Linked DNA regions of Homo sapiens: region 2 is linked to region 1. The links come from fine-mapping of genetic effects on gene expression. A gene starts in region 1. The other region holds a variant in brackets. All regions are shown on one strand. Distances are from middle to middle. Region 1 holds the start of LDHB (lactate dehydrogenase B). Region 2 has its middle 7.1 kb from the start of GYS2.

Region 1 (2,915 bases):
TTTAACCAAATTTCTATTGCCACTTATTGTAATTGAAATAGGTTGCCTACTTGTCTGTCTCCAATGGACTAGGAACACCTCAAAGGGCATAATCTTATATTTATGTTTTTTACCAATGCTTGGCACTGAGAATAAACTGAAGCAATAATTATAGAATTAGTGGTCATATACAAGAAATATGCATTTACAAAAAAAAACACTTCACATACAGGAAGTTTGTGAGATGGCTATATTTGAAAGCATTTTAATTATAAGAAAACAGAACTGAAGCCAGACTCTTCAGAATTCCTCCAATTTATCATTCATTCATTTATTCATCAATGCTATATTTAGGTACCAAGCACTGGCTGAGTGTTGAAGACAGAATGAATGACAACATCCAGCTTTGGAGTCGATTAGGGACTAAAAAAGAAAGTGCATCTCACTTAGTGGTCCCACATTTCCCCTAGAGGGCAAAGCCTGACCTTGAGACCAGGTGGAATTGTAGGGGAACTTCAGATGGCAGGGACAAAGCCTCATTGGTCTTGTCAGGCAACGAGTAAGCAATCATTGCGTGTTTGTTGAAACAGGTTGAAAAAAATAGTCATTTTCATCAAATGAACTTTAAAACGGAGATGATCTAAATTCAGATGTATTTTTTTAAGTCCTTTAAAGTTTAACTGAAATGCAACATAGAAATTTATTTCTGGCCGGGCGCGGTGGCTCAGGCCTGTAATCCCAGCACTTTGGGAGGCCGAGGCGGGCGGATCACGAGGTCAGGAGATCGAGACCATCCTGGCTAACACGGTGAAACCCCCCTCTCTACTAAAAATACAAAAAATTAGCCGGGCGAGGTGGCGGGCGCCTGTAGTCCCAGCTACTCGGGAGGCTGAGGCAGGAGAATGTCGTGAGCCCGGGAGGCGGAGCTTGCAGTGAGCCGAGATCGCGCCACTGCACTCCAGCCTGGGCGACAGAGTGAGACTCCGTCTCAAAATAAAAAAAAGAAGGAAAGAAATTTATTTCTATTTGTACTAAATCTAATAGAACAAGAGCGTTAAAGTCCAGAAGAGTCGGGGATGGGCAAGTTTTATAAATAACTTGGCCTCCGCATTGAAGAGCCTGCGAGATGTGAGACCAGCTGAGAGCGGAAGCCTCTGGAAGGAGACCTCCTCATCTGGAGGGTGGGGGAGGGAGTGTGCATACTTGAGCCCTTGTCCTTGAAGGGGATTGAGCGAGCCGAGGGGAGGGGTAGGCGGTACTCGGATTTCCAATCACAATGGAGAAACCTAAGAGGCTGCGGTGGTTGTGGGGCCCCGCCCCCTCCTCCCTCCTTGCAGAGCCGGCGCCGGAGGAGACGCACGCAGCTGACTTTGTCTTCTCCGCACGACTGTTACAGAGGTCTCCAGAGCCTTCTCTCTCCTGGTAGGTTTCGGCTCAGGACCCTGAATCCTGGCCCACAGGCAAGCCTGATGGGACGTGCGGGGTAGTACTTGTATGGGGAGACGCGGGAAGGAGGAAGAAGCACATCTGTCCTCCGCGGCCTTTAGCTCTGAGCATCCGGCCGCGGGCCCTGACTTTGCCGCTCAGTTTGGGGCGCAGGGGGGGCCGTGCCCTGGCGGAGGAGCAGAAGGCAGAGGGTAGCAGCTGCGGCTCAGCGGAGAGACTTGTTGCATTTGCAGCTAAAACCAGGCCCTACTTGTCCTTGGTGGGTTCATGGCGGCCACATCACCCCCACGGCCTGCTGGCGGGAGTCGGGACACGTGCCCGAGTAGCTGGGGGAGGGGGACGGAACCAGGTGGCCTATGAAGGCTGGACGATCTTTACCTCGAATATTTGAATATATTGCCACGGTAATAGAGAAATGCCCTTGCACTCGCTGGGATGAGGAGAAAGGCACCTAGATGACCAGCACGTTTGGCGCTGCACTTATTTTTACCCGGCTCTGACGGTCTTTCCAGGAGCCATGCGCCAGTTCTTTCCTGCAGGGCCTCTTTTCTGGATGCTTAGGGGCTTCGTTTACTTTACCAGCCTTGGGTGCTCCGAGTAAGGAAGTCCTAGACTTGTCCCCACAGACCTTACTCGGGGAGATCTCTAGCTTCTGCATGCCCTCGTGATCTGCTGTTCTTTGCTGCCGGTGCCCTGAGGAAAAGATGGTTTGTGCGCACCGCGAGCAGTACAAGCTGCAGTAAGGGCCTGGGGAATGGGGGGAGGGGAGGAATTCAAAAGCAAAACCTGAATTTTTAAAAGATTACGGTGAGAAAGATTCTGCAAAGAAGATCTTTGTTCCTGAAATTAAGGCGCTCCTTTATTTCTAATGATTTATATCCACAGCAGTGAGGAGACATAAGGGACCAAGACTCAGAGATTTTTACCGTTTGTCGTTCTTGTTCCTTACAGCCTGCACTCTGATGTTGGCACAGGCCTGTATATCATGCAGACCATTTTCTTCTCATTTCTTAAAACTCTTTTTAAGGAAAAATTGAAGAAAAGCACTTTCTCCAGAAATATCTGAAAGAAAATCTGGTTCGAGCCTTTAAATTGTACTTCCTGAAGTTTTCTAAATTAAAAGGTCTATCAGAACAACGAATCTGTATTTATATAGCCACTGTTTCTTCATTTTCATTTTCCACTGCTTCCTGGGCCCCCTGTATACCAAAACGGTCGTAAACAGACCATCTAACAACAATAAACTTAAGTGCAGAACAACTATTCATGTGTGTCGTCCTTCAAAAAGAGATGCAGCATTCTTTCTTCTGAGCCTGTTTAAAATGCAGGCCATGTCTGAATTTATTTCATTTTAAGGTCATCTATTTGTGGAGGCACTTGCACAACATTGCATCTTCTCTCTTTAACGTCCACTAGGAAACTGTAAATGTGATCTGTAAAGGCGAAAGAATCTCCTTTTAATTTATCCTTACAGATGGGAGGAAATATTT
Region 2 (2,915 bases), 46 kb after region 1:
AACAGGCAACTCCCCAAATTAAACCAATGCTCTTATTTCTTAAGATATCCTATGTTGAAGCATGTATTTACACCCCCACCTGTTTTCCTCATACTGTGTTAGAAAGACTTCTTAAAACAAATAGAACATATTTGGCATCTGTGGGCTAGCATATAAACTTAGAAAAAAAATCTCTTGACAGTTTCTAATATCCCTCTACTTTTTATCAACTTTCCACCCTAAATCAACATCAAAGGGTTTTATTATCTCTTATCAGGAAAGTGATTCCACAATATTCCTTGGAAACTATTTAAGTGTTACAGGAACCATTTGTTTTCTAGTCAAAGTGCATATGGAACAGCCAATCACATAAAGTATAGTGACTGAGAACCCAGTACTGATCTTGTGGAAGATATAATCTTATAAAAACATTAAATGTGAGTATAACTTAGCATTAAATCTTAATATCTAATTTTCCCTCAAAATCGTGATAATAATAGGGCTGGGTAATGTTATGACTGTTAGGACTTCTCCTCTTGGTCTGACACTACCACATCCAGAATTTGCGTTTAGTGAGAATGTGCTTTTATGCCTTCTCCATATGCAAATAGAGATTAGGTTGACAGAAACAGCTAAATTTAAAAAAAAATGTGTTCTCAAGGAGATATTTGACTTGTTTTGATGGTAAAGGAGTTACTTGGGATCTCATGTGTTGTGGGTTTCATCAAGGTGGGGTAGGACTGATTCTCAGGTTTGCCTAACTACATTGAGCATTAACACAGAAGGTAAAAAAGGTAACTACCAAAAGGCATTCCACCTGACAGAAACTAATTTAGTGCCACACCTGTACTAACATTCGAATTTTCCTCTTTATATTAAAAAAAATTTTCATCGACTCTTTCTTTCTCTTTCTTTCTTTCTTTCTCTTTTTCTTTCTTTCTTTCTCTCTCTTTCTTTCTCTCTCTCTCTCTCTTTCTTTTTTGAGACAGGGTTTCACTCTTGTTGCCCAGGCTAGAGTGCAATGGCGTGATCTTGGCTCACTGCAACCTCCGCCTCCTGAGTTCAAGCCATTCTCCCGCCTCAGTCTCTCGAGTAGCTGGGATTACAGGCATGCACCACCATACTTGGCTAATTTTGTATTTTTAGTAGAGATGGGGTTTCTCCATTTTGGTCAGGGTGGTCTCGAACTCCTGGCCTCAAGTGGTCCACCTGCCTTGGCCTCCCAAAGTGT[T/C]GGGATTACAAGCGTGAGCCACTGCGCCCGGCTTTGTCAACTATTTTCATGACACCATTTTGGAAAAAAAAGTTTAACATTGCCACTTATATTACTTGACTTGTTTATCTTTGTAATACTTGGCATTTACTCATATGTATATACCACTGTATATTTTATAAGCCTCTGCATAGCATATATGCTTCTGCTTCATACAAAATCACCATGTAAATAATATTTGACAATATTTCATATCTTAAATTTGGTGGAGAATGTCAGAAAAGTAAGCCTGTTGTTCAGTATTCCTAGCCTTCATATCAGCATCTCTCACCTGAGCAGAGCGTGGAGAAAAGAGAGCCTAGATGGCAGCCAACTGATGGTCTCCTGCAGGAGGCAGATGAGCAGCTTGAGCTGGCTGGCCATCAGGTTGACTCCATGCATCTGGCTTGGAATCCCTGATCTCTGAGCCGATGCAGGCTTTGGCAGACACTGTGCAAAGAGCATTCATACATGCTCATTTAATCCCCACAACAACCTCGTGAAGTGAATATCATCACCCCCATTTCACAGTCTACTAAGTAGTCCACTTCTAAATGAGACTGGCTTGACTCCAAAGCCCTAGTTTTTTTTTTTTTTTTTTTTGAGACGGAGTCTCGCTCTGTCGCCCAGGCCGGACTGCGGACTGCAGTGGCGCAATCTCGGCTCACTGCAAGCTCCGCTTCCCGGGTTCACGCCATTCTCCTGCCTCAGCCTCCCGAGTAGCTGAGACTACAGGCGCCCGCCACCGCGCCCGGCTAATTTTTTTGTATTTTTAGTAGAGACGGGGTTTCACCTTCTTAGCCAGGATGGTCTCGATCTCCTGACCTCATGATCCACCCGCCTCGGCCTCCCAAAGTGCTGGGATTACAGGCGTGAGCCACCGCGCCCGGCCCAAAGCCCTAGTTTTTAACAATTTTACTCTGCTCCCTCTTTCCTGGTAAACTCAAAGTGTCATCGAGCCTTGGCTTCCACTCTTGGCACGTAAGCTCTTATCATTGCACATTTTCTCTCCAGGCTCTGTTTTTGTAAACTTTTATTTAAAAATATTTCTTATATTGATTTTATTAAAAATTCCTTGGGAGAATAGAGGACCGTACATGGATGTCACAGAACGAGATAAGGACGAAAGCAACACATTTGATTAAACGTCACTGGATGACTTGATCTCTTCCCAGAGAGATATTATCCCTCTGCTTTCTCTCTTACCCAAAATCTTATTTGTTTACTTCTTTATCCATAGGGGCTATAGCTACCTTTCCTACATTTGATTTTAGCCAAAAGGCCGAGAAGCGATAGCTACCTTTCCTAATCCCTTCATCTTGTGTAGCAAAAGAGTTTAAAATAAAATTAGAGAAGAGGGATCACAAACCAAAAGCTCTATTCCAAAAACAAGTTCTGAGTATACGGGTAAAATTCAGTCTATACTAAGGTAATCTCAACAGTCAAGGTCAAAAATCTCTCTCACGATCTTCAGTGTGATGGATGGGCATTGTCAGCTTAGATTGTAAGTTTAATTTAAGGATAATTTCTTGCTTTGCCTTTGGCTGCTTCCTGATCAGCAACTCCAAATGCACGTGGAAAAAAAAATTAACTCAGGAGCTTAAGTGTTTCTAGAAACCTGACAGTTAATGTAGGCCCATGGAGACTGAGATGACTGTGATGATTTCAGGAGAGATTTACCCAGCTC

The links. PIP is the estimated chance that this variant, and not a neighbour inherited with it, causes the effect.
Region 2: its variant is the best candidate, but not a certain one, in a credible set for the expression of LDHB in whole blood (TOPMed, PIP 0.52).

Annotation. Positions count from the first base shown.
Region 1 is chr12:21,656,237-21,659,151 of GRCh38, reverse strand. It overlaps LDHB (lactate dehydrogenase B), which reads left to right and starts at 1,310. Exons shown (of 8, transcript NM_002300.8): 1 at 1,310-1,401. RefSeq lists enhancers at 829-1,008, 883-1,411, 1,389-1,638, 1,669-1,758.
Region 2 is chr12:21,610,483-21,613,397 of GRCh38, reverse strand. No RefSeq gene overlaps it. Among named protein-coding and RNA genes, the nearest start is that of GYS2, 7.1 kb to the right of the region's middle. The variant T/C (reference allele first, on the strand shown) is at 1,211.